Regions from separate parts of the Homo sapiens genome. Here region 2 is linked to region 1. Evidence: fine-mapped expression QTL. Tissue or cell type: whole blood. Region 1 holds a variant in brackets; the other region holds the start of a gene. All regions are shown on one strand. Distances are from middle to middle.

The links. PIP is the estimated chance that this variant, and not a neighbour inherited with it, causes the effect.
Region 2: it holds the start of PTK2B, and the variant in region 1 is fine-mapped to the expression of PTK2B in whole blood (INTERVAL, PIP 0.96).

Annotation. Positions count from the first base shown.
Region 1 is chr8:27,443,726-27,451,725 of GRCh38, reverse strand. It overlaps PTK2B (protein tyrosine kinase 2 beta), which reads right to left. Exons shown (of 31, transcript NM_173176.3): 23 at 7,455-7,520; 24 at 5,807-5,932; 25 at 831-977; 26 at 648-683; 27 at 217-241. Among named protein-coding and RNA genes, the nearest start is that of MIR6842, 14 kb to the right of the region's middle. The variant G/A (reference allele first, on the strand shown) is at 3,140.
Region 2 is chr8:27,320,677-27,328,816 of GRCh38, reverse strand. It overlaps PTK2B (protein tyrosine kinase 2 beta), which reads right to left and starts at 3,265. Exons shown (of 31, transcript NM_173176.3): 1 at 3,136-3,265. RefSeq lists a silencer at 1,182-1,378 and enhancers at 2,121-2,190, 1,536-2,365, 2,971-3,020, 3,071-3,220.

The DNA of each region.
Region 1 (8,000 bases):
GAGAGAGAAGGGCAGGGTGCTAGGCAGGGAGAGGAATGGGGTGGAGGGAGCGGAGGGGAAGCTGGCCTGCCCCACATGCTCTGAATTAAATCATGGCCGATGCTGCAGGGAATGCAGACAGACTCCGCTGCTCCCTGCCCTGGGCGGTGGGCAAGGATGGTGGCTCTGCACAAGGTGCCAAGAGGAAACCCCCCGAAGAAGGGCGGGAACACTCACGGTAGCCGACCTCCTTCTCTGGCGTCTGGAGGAAGGAGGAAAGAGAACAGGAACGTCACTCATGCGGCTGTGGAGACAACCCCCTCCCTGGTTACCCATTCCCCAGTCCCTCCACTGTGTGTTTAGAGATTACAGCCATGGGGTCGGGGGTGCTTCTGGGAGCAGCTCGTGACCCAATGTGACCTTTCTGGGAGGCCGAGGGGCCCTGGGGAGGGCCACAGACAGCACTAAGGGCACGATCACAGGAGAGTTCAGGAAAAGGGCCATGTAGGGATTGGCAGAAAAGGAAAAGACACCCTCCCAACATGGAAAGCCATTGAGGAGGAGCTGGGCAGGCCTGGGGGTAGGAGCAAGTTGGGCGGGGGGTCCTATGGTGGGCGAGGCCTTCCCAGGCCTTGGCATGGAGGAGGCGGCCTCTCCTGGCAACTCACCAATGGGGACTTATCATTCATATAAACCATGGGGTCCTGCAGAGGAAGAAACAAGAGCGAAGGACTAAGAATTCTGGAGCTGAAAGCACCAAGAATGCAGGGGACCCTTGCCCCAGCCACCTGGGGAGGTGGAAGAGGACACAGATGGGTGCAGGGCACCGACATCCTTCCTGGGGTGCTCACCAGGGACTTCTCCTCCTGCCTGAGCCACTGGTAGTCCTCCACCATCTGCTTCTGCTGTTTGTCCAGGATTTGCCGCATTTTGACCTTTTCAGCCTCCCACAGCTGCTGGGCCTCTTCTCGGCTGCTGGGTTGGATGAAGTCCTCCTCCTGGGAGGACGGCAGAGAGAAGGGAGAGGATGCAATGAGCCCTGCTCTCAGACTCAGGGAGGGACAGTCCTCTGAAGAACCTCATGGCAGCTGCAAGCCTTGGCCTGGCCAGCTGCTTTTTTCTCATAAGTTTGTTCTTAAACCCAGAGCTATATGTGCAGACAGCTATCCAGTATCAGCCCCGAGCATGTATCTGCGTTGCAATGTGATACCAAACCCAAGAACCCACTGCTCAACGTGCGCTGTATTCAAATGATTACACGATCTGCTCATGATATTTTACCAAGTGACTGCCCTACTATTATCTCAGTGTTTGTGATGGTTGTTGTCATTTAATATATTTTAAAAAGAAAAGCTATTAAAGTCTATTAAAATCTATTTTAAAATCTACTAAAAGCATCCAAAGGGTTTCCAAGGGGCTGGCTTTGCTTAGTTGGAGAGCATCACACCCTTCTGATGCTATCTCCACCTAAGGACCAAGGTGGCAGGTCTGGAAGCTTCGAGAGACAGGGGTGCTGCCTCTAGCCTCACGGTGTGCAGTCCCACGTGTGTCCATGAATGAGCAGAGCCTGAGAGAACAAGCAACAGCATGCACCCACCAACCATGCCTTCCTATTAAGACACATTCTTTATTAAGATAATAGCTTGGGTTATTTAACTAAATGTTAGGAGAAATGCATGAGCTAAGAGATAAAATAAGGAACAAAATTTCATGAAATACAGCTCTATAGAGATAAGATAAATGCAATCATAGCTTGAGTTATTTAACCAATGATTAGAAGAAATTCATGAACTAATAGATAAAATGAAAAACAAAATTCAAAGAAATATAGTTTGATAGAGAGAAGATAAATGCTTCCTCTCCCTAGATCTAGTAATCTAACTCTTGCTTTAACTTACCTCTGGGGCTTTGGACCTATTCATAATTTTAGCTGCTAGTTCCTAAACAGAAAGTATTGCATGTCTTCCTATTTTCATTCAGTCTTCCCCCACGGTTCATTTGTATAAATATCTGCTCAGTGTCTCTAAACTATTTTGCTCTTGTTGTGCTGCACATGGGGACCCTGGCCTCCTGGACAGATGGAGGAGGAATATTATTGGCATCCTCTTGATTGCACAAAGCCCAGGAGTTGCCTTTGCTAGGGCAGGATTCTTCTGTGACATCTAAGCTGGCAGGTCCCTCAGTTCCTTGCCTTTGAAGTGGCCATTTGCATACAGGTCACTTGCAGAAGATGCTAACAATTATCTCTATCTACTTTTAGCAAGCAATAATTCCTACCAAGCCTCTTAAAAGAGTTTCCTCACTAAGCCCTACAAAACACACTTGAATATTACAATATGGTCTAAAAGTGGTTATATTGGGATGTTTTACTTAGTGCACACTGAGCTTCAATTACTAACCTCAATTTCTAATCACACGTTTCCCCATGAGTTAGGTTTCTTGCTGAAATATTTATTCATTAATCTATTCAACAATTATTTATTAAGCAACTACTATGTGGCAGGGCTGGGTGCTGGGAGGACAGTGATGTTAAACTATACGATGTTCTTATTCTCGTGGGGTTAAGTAAATACTAGTCAGACCAAGGCTCCTCAACCTCAGCACTACTGACATTTGGAGCCAGACAAGTCCTTATTTCCAGGGCAATTTCCTGTGCATTGTACGATGCTTAGCAGCATCTCTGGCCTCCCCACAATATATGCCTATAGCACCACCCCAGTTGTAACAAAAATGCTGCCAGACATTGTCAAATGTCCTCTCAGAGGGAAAATAACTTAGCTGAGAACCACTGAGCTAGACCTTATTTTAGGAAAACAAATTCCAGCATATAAGAGTATTTTATAATCATGGAATTGATAAAAATAAAATAGGTTTTGTTGATCAGAGGCTGATACTCAAAAATGAGGACATTTTAAGGCCATAAAAATCCCCAGTTAAATGTCAACACCTGCAGACACAATGGCATGGCTGCCCCAGGCTGTTGACAAATAGTGACAAACAGGAACTAAGTGTCAAAAGTTCTAAATATAGAGTTAGGGATTTCTGGATGTGAGAAAAATGTATGGGTTAAGGAAGAGTATGGTAAGTACCAGTTGGATGAGCTACTAGAATCAAGAAAATTCTACAAGTATTTGTAAGTATTTGTAAGTTTATAAGTGTT[G/A]ACAGAAGATTCCACCACTAAAATGCCTAGCATGCCTCAGGCCTGATCGTACCACATATTCTAACAAACACAGATTAGGAGACATCCTGATGCCTTCCAATTTCATAATAAAACTCAAGGAGAAAAATGAACACTCAAAAAAATGGAATCTCTTTGAGGTTGGTTTTGCTGAAATGCGCCTCCAATATTCTTATTAGGTAATGGATACTTACATTGCTCATTACATTCTATTCTTAAAAGGAATTGGGTACTCATGGTGTTTTAAAATGACTCTCGTAAGTTGTGACACCTTCCATAATCTGGCTATGACCCATCTGTTGGCTTTATTTCCACATCCACAAGTACCCTTCCTGCTGTAGTCCAACAGTTCTTGCACTTGTCCTGTGGTTTCCCACCACTCAGTCTTGCCTCCTACTGAAGCCCCTGCCTCTTCCATTCCCTGAATCTCAGTTTCCTCCTGTCCACATCTTTCCCATCTTTCAAGGCCCAACTTTTAAATAGAAGCTGGAAAGGGTTGTCCTCCTCTCTGAACTCCCACTTTGTGGTACCCACGACCTTCTGGCTTGCATTACAGGTAAGTGTGCACCTGGTCTGATCCTTCTGGTCGACTGTAAGCGCTTTGAAAGCAGCGCCTCCCCCCTTCAGCACCGAGGACAGCGTCCAGCAATCACAGCAAGCCCTACTGTTTATTGAATTGTATTATTTTTATTTTATTTATTTTTATTTTTGAGACAGGGTTTTGCTCTGTTGCCCAGGTTGGAGTGCAGTGGCGTGATCTCAGCTCACTGCAACCTCTGCCTCCCAGGTTCAAGTGATCTCCTGCCTCAGCCTCCTGAGTAGCTGGGATTACAGGTGCACACTACCATGCCTGACTAATTTTTTGTATTTTTAGTACAGATGGGGTTTTGCCATGATGGCCAGGCTGGTCTCAGACTCCTGACATCAAGTGATCCACCCACCTTGGCCTCCCAAAATGCTGGGATTACAGGCGTGAGCCACCACGCCTGGCCTTGAATTGTATTATTTTTAAAGCTCAATTGTGAGGTCTTCAGGAGAGAGACTGCTGCCATCCCAATGCTGGTATGGCATCCCACAGACTCCCTGATGAGTCAGGCTATAGAGCCACTCAGTAGAAAAACTGTTTTTCTGGGAACACCACCTCTGTATTTTTGTTAAATGCTTCCAAATGCTTTGTGAGGAGCCTATTATACCTTCTCAGCATTCTACCTGGAAGAGACTTTCTCAGTGTTTCTGATCTGTGTCATAAAATGGAGCTTATATTTTTAACTTTTTTGGGTTTGTTTATTTAAAGACATGCTCATTATGTTCTTTTAGGCAGATTTTCCTTATGTCAATTACTTCTAAAGCCCTGATACAAAAGGTCTTTTTTCCTACTGCACAATCTCTTTATGGAACTGAACAAGGTCCTTGTGGAGAAGCAGGAAATTGGACGAAGGCAATGCTACCCCTCAAATGTGCAAAATAGCTTCTTTCTAAAATAACACAATTTAAAGCAAAACTTACTAAAACAATCATTTATGAATAGAGAGTCAAAGGCAGGAGGGTGGAGAAACCGAACACAGCCTAAATTATAGCACATGCCTAAAAATGTAGTTTATTATTGTTAAGCACACGCAAAGACAGAAATTGGTTAAATTAATATAAAAGAGAAAAACGAGGTAGGTCAGAGGAAAATTGATTTCACAAAAAATCTTAGTGTCTGGAATTCTAAGTTATCATGCTCATTTCAAAATTCTACTAAATTAAGCATAATGGCATGAAAGTAATATCAGCATACTTGCCTACATCTTCCAAATATATTATGATAAACATCTAATTTTTTTCAAAAAATATTTTAGTCATGTTTAGTGAGCCTGAAATATTGTGCATGCATGCAGAGTTAGAGCTAAAATAAGTGTTTTAGTTGGTTTAGTAAAATAGATCAAGTGTTCGTGGCAACTGACCACTAGGGGCCATTTGTATGGAAGAAGGTGGTTGGTGACCAGTGGGCATCTGGTTATAAGCAAAAGTGTCTTTTTCACACAAGACCTGACAATCAGAAGCCAGCCATGAAGCACTCCGGGCTTCACCAGCAGTTAACAACCCCCCGTGACAAAGAGCTGACAAGGGAAGTGGCTTAGGTCCCTGCTCTAGCCAGTTAATGAGGCTGTATTCCCACTAGCCCTAAACTCCTTCTCACCCAGCAGCAGCCTGAACAAAAGCAGAAAGGGGAGCAGCCACAAGAAAGCCTTTCCTTTGACTGAGGAGAGATTTCACACCCAAAGCCATCATTTAGGAAGGATACTCTCCAGCACCACTAAGCTGTGCTGTGCCCTGCCTAGGAGCCTCCAAGCTGCCACAGATCCCCCTACCCCTGGGGCTCAGGAGAGGGGGAGATTTGTACATCTCTAGCCATAGCACCAGCATGGCCAAGGGCAGGTTAGGTCCAGCTGGTGTCCTCCAGAGCAGGGCCTGGTGTGGCTGCCAGCCTCTGATGTGTTTGCAAAGGGAAGGAAGTCACAGAGTGCCACCTCAGTGGCCTGACTGGTGCATGGGAACAGGAAGGGCCCTCCTGAGCTGAGGACGTGGGGTTTCCAGTGTCCCCGGCCACCTCCCTCCAGCAGCCTCCTCAGTCCGGGCAGGGACCAGCATGCAGAGCCCTCTTACCCGCATGCTGTGGCGTTTGAAGACATTGTGCCGGTGGAGAGGTGGGGTGTGCAGTGAGTTAACGGGAGATGGATACTCCATAGGGCTGGTGAGCGTAGGAGAGCTGGCACACAGACCCTCAGGAACCTATTCAGGAAAAGCAAAGAAGCACAAGGCACGGGACAAAGCGAGAAGGTAGACAATTAGCTGCTACAAACACGAGCACAAAGAAACTATGCATGAGCACCACAGGGAATGGGGCTTGCTCTCCAGGAGTTAATAAAGAACAAAACGTGGGCCTTCCATTGCTCCGAGAGAGATGGTGGAGCAGTGCAGCCTCTCATTCATCCAACATTCCCCCAAGATGCTCTGCACACAGTGGGGTCCATGCTGGTTACGGACCCACTGAGACCAGGGCTCTTCCTTCAGGACTCTTCAAAAAATAGTTGTTTCAGTTGCATTACAGACTGACTGATGTGGTTAACACACCAATTTATACAGATATGTATGAATTGTTTTTTAAAAATTCAGATAGGCTCTTGCTCTGTTGCCCAGGCTGGGATGCAGTGGTATGATCACAGCTCACTGCAGCCTTAAACTCTTGGCCTCAAGTAATCCTCTTGCCTCAGCCTCCCACATAGCTGGGACTACGGATGCATGCCACCATGCCTGCCTTGAATTTTTTTTAATTAAAAAATAAGTATATCACAATTTTATTGTATTACTATTTGTTTTTAGAGATGGGGTCTCACTATATTGCCCAGGCTGGTCTCAAACTCCTGAGCTCAATGAATCCTCCCATCTCACCCTCCTTAGTAGCTGGGACTACAGGTGTGTTCCACCCTACCTAACTCCCTGTTTTAAATATTGCACATGGGTATATCTCTTTTTTTTCAGAACGATTTTTCCATCTTCTGAATCAGGCTTTCTCTTCACGTGAAGAGGATTTATCTATTAGTCCTTAGATGGTCTTGTTTTGGCACTCAGGCATTTCCTTGAGAACAAATATAGGACCATGGGACACCACCTTTCTATAAAGGGCACCAACTAAATGGACATTATTTCTGGTGGTTGAGGGGATCAATTTTTGAGCAGTGGCTCTGAGCTGGGGGATGCAAGAGAAGAAATAAGAGGAGACTGGACTCCCTCTCTCCTAGAGGCAAGAGAGACACAGAACAGAGACATTCAGGGTCAGGGACGCACAGCCTGGGAAAGAGTCATGGTTGGGGATAATGGAGCTGGGAGAAAGCTCAGGTAAAACCCTGCTGTCTCTTCAATGGCCACCCAGGTTCTGGATGGGGCCTCTTTGGGGAGTCCCATGGAGCTACTCCATTTGTTGGGAAATATTCCCTGGGATTCCTTCTGGTAAGGAGGCCAGGGAGGCCTTAGATGTGGGGAGAGAGCAGCAGGCAGGCACACAAAGCAGCAGATGATGTAGACAGAGGGATGGGGCTTAAGGCAGGTCTTAGCTGAGCACAGCCTGGGAGAACTGCATTTTAATTCTTGTGATCTGAGTCTGCATTCTGTTCTGGGTGCCAAAGAAGAGTCAACCTAGGCCATCTCCATCACCCAAGTGGGTGACTGCTGCTCCTCTAAGGCACAAGAATGGAGTTTCAGGACCTGGATGAGAGGTAGACCTGAAGTTCCCGTCCTCTGGTTCTATCTTTACCTGGAACTGCAGCTTTGGAGCCAGGAGGTTGGTTTGCGGAGGGGGTCTGTACTTAGGTCGGCTGGGCTGGAGAGAGAACACAGATGGGTCAGTCTCTGTCCCTCTCCTTGAGTGAACACAACTCACCAAGGGGAACATCAGGTCAAAGACACCTCAGGCTTGTTCCAAAGGAAGGAAAGTTGAGGGACAAAGCTGTCATGAAACTCATTTTGCATCCATTTATTGAGCACTGATTATCTACTGAGTGGTGGAAGGTACAAAGAAGCCACCTCACTGCCCTCCCGGGGCTATGGCTAATTGGAGGGTTAATGATTGGTGCATGTGTTGCTTCCCTATACGTGGGAGCACCCACCAAGTCAGAGCTCCAGAGCCACAGGCATGCAGAGGTAGGAGCTCACCAGGGGCTTGGGCATTCACAGAAGCTGCATGGAGGAGATGAACGCTGAGCCAGGCCCGCGGGGAGGGGTGGGACATGCCAGGCAAGAGGGACAAGTGAGAAAAGGCCTTAGATGGGATCAGACATTGTTATGGACTGAATATTTGTCC
Region 2 (8,140 bases), 120 kb after region 1:
TCCCCAAACTGCCCTCACATCAAGGTTCACTCAATGTGGAATGCTGTTTCCCTGAGAATGTGCATGGGCTCTACAGCCATCCTCAGGGAATGACACGTGTCTTTTTATGCAGGACTTATCATAACCTTGATCTTGCAAATATTCAAGACACATGTCCAAGTGCAGGCTCATTTGAACGTTTCATCAGTGGAACACCTCTATCCATCTCACGCCATAGGGTCTCTCTCAACACCACCTGGGCAAACAATCCAAGGGCCTGGGGACAAAATGTTTATCACAGGGGGATGGGGAGATTTAGCCACTGGAAAGAAGGACCATTTTTAACCTAGCCGTTCCCACAAGGGAAACACACTTTCCATTTCCTCTTTCTCTTAACGAATTCTTAACTTCCTCTAGGTTCCCTTTTAGGAGGACCCTAATTTGTTGTTACAAATGCTCCCATTAAAGTCAAAATCCAGTTCATAAGGCACCTTCACTTCCTCTATCTCTTAGCGCTACTTTTCTAATAAGGAACTCATCCTAAAACTGGGAATCATGACAGCCAAATTTCATGGCGCATTTGTCTGCGCTGAATATTTTATCTGGATTCTCTACTTTAATTCATTCACATTTCCCTTCAGTTAATTCTACTTTGAGTCACTCTCTGCCCACCCACCATCCCTCAAGAAGAGTGTTATATCTCCACCCCTTGAAGCAGGTCATATGGGAAGGGAGTAGCAAAGCTAAAAACATAATGCAGACTCTGTCCCCAACCCAAGGGCTAACCCCACGAGTTCTCACTGGAAGCATGAACCCTACTATGTATTTCACCTGAGACCTCCAAGTGCTCACTTGTGGAAGTAAATGAACCCAAGCACTCTGTGGCTGTTGCTTTGCTCAACCCTGTGAAGGTGTTGCAAAATTCAATATGTACCATGTTTCCTTTAGTACTCACTAGGCAATTTACATACATTATCAGGGATCCTCCCAACCACCTGCACAAACAGATACTCCTGCCCTCATTTCAGAAAAGAGGATTCTGAGGGTCAGAGAAGCTCACCGGTCTACATGGATTTGAACCCAGATCTGTCTGGATTTAATGTCGTTTTTTCTGAGGTACCATACTCCTTCACCTGTATAGATGAATAAACTGACCAAGGAATTGATTTTTTGTTTTTTAAATGAGCTCATAATAAAATCCAGGAGGAATGGTTACAAGATAGACCTGAGACTGTTCTCAGAGTGCCTGGGCAGTTTCCAGCCTTTACTTCACAGCATTGCGCCAACCTCAGCTTCTCCTAGAGTAGGGTTGCCAGATAAATACAGGACACCCAGTTAAATGTGAATTTCAGAGAAACAGTGAATAATGTTTGAGTATAAGTATGTTCCATGTAGTTCATGAGACATATTTGTAGTGAAAAAAAAAACCATTGAGTGCTTATCTGAAATTCAAATCTGAGTGTCCCGTGCTTTTATTGGCTAAATCTGGCAATCTCTTCCTGCTGGGAAGTCTCCTGCCTGGCTCCAGGTCCCAAGTGTTGCTCCAACAGAAGTTGCCATGGCAGCCTGGCAGGCCTTCCAAAGCCTTCTAGAGCAGTCTCCACTCACCCCTGCAGCTTCCCCTCGCCCCTGCACGCTCTAGGTTCCCAACAAGCCCAGCTACTTTCATTTTCCTGGATGCCGCCCGCTGCTTCCAGCCTCCTGCTGCTTTTAGCCTCCAGTCTCTGCACTTGCTGTTCTTTCCCCTCTTCTCTTGTGCTAATTTCTAGTCATCCTTCAGCTCTCAATTTGGAGTCACTTCTGCCAGGACGCCCTCCTGGCCATTGCTGACTGGCTCCCCCCACAGCCCTCTAGTGCAGGGTTGGATAGTACCCTGCACCTTCCCCTGGCAGCCCTCCCTCAACCACCCGGTATCCCACACTGCCCTGGTGAGCAGAGGCCATGCCACACTCACCTTGTCCCCACACCTTGCACCTGGCCGCAGGTGGGAAGCCAGTGAGTGCCTCCTGAATGGATGACTGCAGACTGTCCCACCAATGCTGGGGCTCTCCAGTGTGACTACTTCCTTCCTCCCTTCTGTCTTTAGTCACTTTTTCATCAGTGTCCTCCTCCCCCTCCCCCAGAGTGGTTGGGAAAGACAGGGCCTTCAGCAACAGCACTTGGGGTGAACAGAGAGCATCCCACGTAGAGGGGCCTCCCAGCACCCACCACCACATCACACCACGTGCACTGCCCCAGTGGGCTCAGACCCAGCCACAGCGCAGCTTCCGAGTTCCTCCTGGCTAAAGCCACCTCTAGGCACAACTTTCTGCTCTTGTCCTTCTGCTGGCTCCTTAAATGAGCGGACTTGGATTTTGCTCCCAGTTTGGGGTATAGGGAGATGCCAGTGTCATGTGGTCGAGGCTTAGGGCAGGTGGCAGGGCTTGCAGAACATCACCCATATGCCGCTCCACGCTCACCCACCCAAAGCGGTGCCCACGCGCAGCCTGACAGCAGGCAGAGGCAGCTCTGAACTTAACCCTTGAGTGGCACTCAGGAGGCGGCTTCTCAAGATACCAGAATGGCCAGTGTTAACTACACACACACACACACACACACACACACACACACATACACACGAGCTCCCCTGTGCCCCAGAACACCCTTGCTTTCCTCCAGCCAGGGCTTGATTCAGAAGATGACCTCTCAGGTGCAAGGAGTGGCTGCAGGAGAGTCAGGGTGGGCTGGGGGTGAGACTATAACCCCTGGGGCTGCGGAAGGGCCCGGGAGGGAGCGGGGAGCGGGGGCAGGAGCTGAAACCCCGTGGCTCCCTAACCTGAGCTTTAGAGGCAGCAGCCTGGCTGTGCCCTCACACCGTCACCCCTAGCCTCCCCCAGCCTCCCCTGTCTGAATATGTTGAGAGGACAAAGAGGGAGAAACACCCTATAGTGTCAAATTTACTCCAAAAATAGAACCCCTCTTCCCCGCGGAAGGCTGGCGAGCTCCGGGCATGTGCACAGCACCCACGGCTCCGATTTCCTGGGTCTGGCCGTTTCTCCGGGAACTCCCAGCTCAGGTGCCCAGGATCCCGGAATTGTCCCCAACCCCTGCCACCCGGTCAAGCCTCCAACTTCTGCCGGGCGCAGCGCTCAGCCCTGGCTCGCGGGAGGGACTCACCCAGGGAGGCGCGGACTCCAGCGACTACTCCTCGGGCACCGCCAGGTGAGCCGGGACGGCGGCAAGTACAGGTAAGTCGGCCGGGCAGGTAGGTGTGCAACGGCTCCGGAGGCTGTGGCTGAGTAAAAGGGCTGACAGGTTAGATTCTCCCTCCTCCTCTGAGTTGTTAACCACACCCCTGCTGCTCTCCTCCCCACTTCCTTAAAGGGTGGGGTGTGTTGTCTGTGTGTGCCGGCTCCAGCCTCTTACCATAAACTCTGAAATAGACGCTGCCACCAATTCCCTGAGCGCCGGGCAGACCTGGGGGGCGATCTCTGCCATTCCCCCGGCCGCAAATGGGATCCTCGGATGTTATGTGCCCCTTGTGAGCAGTTAACTCCCCAATTCCTAACACCCCTCCATCCTCTGTCCACTCCACCTGCAGCCTTTTGGAGGCCAAAAGGTGTGTGTGAGGTGGGTGGGGGCGCAGGGCGGGCGGAGGAAACCAACTTCTCAGGCTGGTTCTCCCAAGACCCCCCGCAGTGGGAGATGTTATATCTACATGGTACTGAGCACTTGTGTCCTAATCTCTCCATGTCCTAAAGTGGCCCCAGTCCCTTTGCAGGCATGAAAAATCATAAATACCACTAGGGATTTTGGCAGAACCGGTCCAGGTCCCTGAACACAGAAGACCAGGTCCCTGAGCTGTGACTAAGTAGGGTCTGAGGACAGCACAAGAATAGTTAGAGATGCTGGACAGCCCCTTCCAGGGGCCCCGCCCAGAGGCTGGTCCCCTCTTTCCTCAGGCCGGTGATATGTGAGCAGGCACTCAAGGGCACTTAGCAACACTTCTTCCCTATCCCTAGGAAAACTCCAGACTTGCTCCTGAGTAGGAGGAGGAAGTGACCTGGACTTGGCATAAAGTGAAAAAAGTGGAGTGTACGCAGCATCATCCTCATCCTACAATGTCCTCTCCAGAGCCCCTGTCCCAAGCTTCTTTATTCTGTGTCCTGTGCAGGATTGGAATCTGATTCCCAGAGCTGCCCTGTTGCACAATTCTAGAGGATGCTATTCACAATGTACTTTCTGAGAATGGCGCCCCCTGGAGTTGTGCTGAGGAAGCACTCAGTTTCCAAGATTGCACTGACTCCTTCCCATTTCTGAAAAGAAACTGGAGACTTAGATAAGTTAACAAAGCTAGGAAGTCAATGTTTCTCAAAGTATAATTAGTGGACTACCCATAGCTATTGGCTGGATGTCACTCTGGGTCCGATGAAGATCAGACTCTCTGCAGCTAGGGCCCACCTGCCCAGCATGGGGCTCACAACCCATTGATGGGCACTGCCAGCCTTGACAGCTGGAGCCCCCCCACCCCTTCCCATTTGTGCTATTCACAGATTTGTCACGTTCCCAGCACTCAGCATTTTGGAGGTAATCTTGGTGACTACACAGCGGTCAGCAGGTCAGAAGGTGGTCAGGTGGGAGAACTTGGCCAGGGATGGAGAGGCAAGTCAGACAGAGGTACACTGAAGTTAGCAGGGAAGGTGTGGGGATGAGGAGGCAGGTAATTGACTACATGGCAAGGACATGGTCAGAGGGCATCTGACAGTGGGTGTCCCCTCCGTATTCTTGCGCTTGGAAATGAAGTGATGAAGGCTGAGTGGCACAAAAGTTAGATACCTGGGTGAGTTGTTGAGAGTCTGTACTAGGAGGTGGCAGTGGGAACTAAAAGCAAAGACAATCAAGACCTGTTTAAGAAAAGGAGAGTTTGTGTGTGCTGCCCCTGTGTGGCCACATAAATGAACTACAATCTTATCTTGCTGGGACCAATTCTGGGAAAGGTGAGTTTTCAGAGGTTGTTGAATTCTTCAGCACTTTAAAAAAAGAATCTCCCAAATCTACCTCACAGAATCATAAACCCATAGCTTTTTAAATGAAAAAGACATTGAGAAACTCTCTGGGGTGGCCAACTCCGCCATCAGGTCTCCCTAGGTTCTGTCCAGTGTCATGTACAAGCAACTCAGGTGACAAGGTCATGCATTTCTGCCTGTTACTGCCTTTTAAAAAAACCCATCAGAAATGCCTCAGGAGCCCTCAAATTCCATGGAAATCCCTAAAAGACACTATCCATGGCGATGCTCTCCATATGGCATAAGTTGCAATAATGATCTACCCCAGTTAGAGAAGAAAAATATTTCCCTTCTACTTCTGTATCTCAAGCTGACCAAGTGCCATGTGGGAGGCCCTAATTGTGGGGGTGTTGGGGGGATGCATACCTGGATCAGAAGAAGGAGAAAACTGTAATGAAAAAGGCCTTTGAACAAATGTCCTTTCAGCTGCTGGACTCTTCCATTTGGATGTTCCACTCTTACCCCAAACTCAGGTCTATAACCCTGGCTCATATTGCTCTTCAAACAAGCCCCGTTCCAGCCCTCCCTGTGAATGTCAACAAAAGAGAAGTCACCTTTGACTCTCCCTCTCCCTCCTTACCCTGCAGCCATGCAATCTCCAATCTCTAAGTCCTGGGAGTCCCACAAACTTTTTTCCTATTCCTCGTTTTCTTTCCTGTCCTATTGACCCATCCTGGTTCAGGTTCTCTTTTCTTATCTTTTCACTAACTGGAGATCACAAAGGTGGTTGAGCTGGTGATTAACTTTTGGGATGGCATTTGAAACCACAAGAATGGATAAACTTGTCTAAGGCAAGAGTCAGAGACAGCAGAGGACTTCAAGTGAAGCTCTTACCAGGAGCAAATGAATGAAGAGCCAAAGGTCAAGTGGGGTGGGCTGATAAGTAAACTGAAAGTGAAGACACAGAGGCGGCACGCGCTGATGAGTCCTGGAAAGCTTGACTGCCAAGGGCAATTGAGACCAGGGGATATTGGAGGGGGTCGTGGGTTGAAAGAGGACTGATTTGTCATTTAGGATGATAGCCAGTAGAGCAGGTTTCAATGCTCACAGGAAGGATCCAGTCAAGAGGGAAGAGGTTGTGACTTTGGACATGCGAATCCATCTTTCTGAGCTTTTATTTCCTAATCTAGAAAAGTAGAAAAATAAGTATTATCTGTTCTACCTGTTTCCCAGGGTATTGTGAAGCCCAAATTAAGTGATAGGTGTACAAATGCTATGAAAAATTCTATAGCTATAATTTTTAGAAATGATAGCAATTAAAGTAAGCTTTATGGGGAGATAGTACATACATACCTGCCATATAGTTTATCAAGTGTTCACTCTGTGCCAAGAACTTTCATCTGCCGTCTAGCTTGTCTTCACAACCGTCTATGAAGTTGCTAGTCCTATTCCTGGTTTGCAGAAAGGAAAAGGAAGCTTGGATAAGGTAAATAAATTATTCACAGGCTCCCAGGTGGTAAAGAGCAAAACCCATCATTGGCAGGGCTGCGACATTATGTAACTGGCATCTCTCCATTGTAAATGATGGAATTTAAATTACATCATGTAAATTTACTATTATGTAGAATAAATTTTATTTTAAAAGAACAGTATGGTTATAAGTATTCTAACAAAAAAAATGGATAAATACAAAAACTAGCTGGGCATAGTGGTGTATGCCTGTAGTCCCAGCTCCTTGGTGGGGCTGAGGCAGGAGAATCGCTTGAACCTGGGAGGCAGAGGTTACAGTGAGCTATAATCATGCCACTGCACTCCAGCCTGGGTGACAGAGTGATAGTCCATTTAAAAAAAAAAAGGGACAAAGAAAAACTTATGGGTACAAGTACTGAAAAAAGTACTTCATCACCAAGGGATGTCTACCTCTAATTTAACCAGACATCACTATGTTTACGAAGTGGGCCACAGTTGAGGCCAAAATAAGTTGAGTATGGCTTGAATAGAACTCAAAATCATGCCCTCAACCTAAAAAAGAACTTTCTCTTTTCTTTCCTTAATATTGGAATCCCTGACTTTCAGATGGTCACAGCCTGCCCAAAATGAAGGCTACATTTCCCAGTCTCCCTTGCATGTGTGACCAGGTGCGACCATGTGATTAAGTTCTCCGCAATGGTTGAAGAGTAGAAGTTATGCACGCAACTCCAGAATCATGCCCCTCAAGGGAATGAGCACATCCTCCAATATTTTCCACTTTATCTTTTCCACCTCCACCTGACAATGAAACCTGGAGCAGCCATCCAGTCTATGATGTTAAGAATCCGGGTACCTAATGCCGTCCAGCCACCATGCTTACCCTGGACATAGTCTGAACCTAGTTTAACTTTTACATGAGAAAGAAATTTAAGTTGCTTGGGTTACTTTATTTTGGCCTTTCTGTTACCATAGCCTGAACTGCATCGGTGATACTATGACATAATAAGAAATATATATTTGGTCTCTGACCGTGCACACAACTTCTAAAACCCTTGGAATTTCTGGAGTGTTAAGAATGTTTTTTTGAGGCCAGGCATGGTGGCTCATGCCTATAATCCAAACACTTTGAGAGGCTGAGGTGGGAGGATTGCTTGAGGCCAAGAGTTCGAGGCCAGCCTGGCCAACGTGGCAAGACTTCATCTGTACAAAAAAATACAAAAATTAGCTGGGCATGGTGGTATGCACCTGTAGTTTTAGCTGCTTGGGAGGCTGATGCAAGAGGATTGCTTGAGCCCAGGAGACTGAGGATGCAATGAGCTATGATTGCACCAGTGGATGAATTTAGCTTGGGCAACAGAGCAACACCCTGTCTCAAAAAAAAAAAAAAAAAAAAAAAAAAAAAGCCTTTTGTATGCCAATGAGATGCCTGGTGGCTTAGGTATCTTAGATCCCTTAGATAGCTTCAGGATGAGGGCTGGTCATCAGAAAAACTGAGGTATGATGAGAAGGCTGAACTTTCAGCGCTATCCCTAAAACTTGGGGAAGGAAAGGGGCTGAAGGTTGAGTTGATCACCCATGGCCAATACTGTAATCAGTCATGCCTACATAAAGAAGCCTTCCTAAAAACCCAAAAGAACATGGTTCAGAGCTGAAGTTGCAGAGGTTCTCAAAGGGTGGCACTTTAAGGGAAGGCATGAAGCTCCATG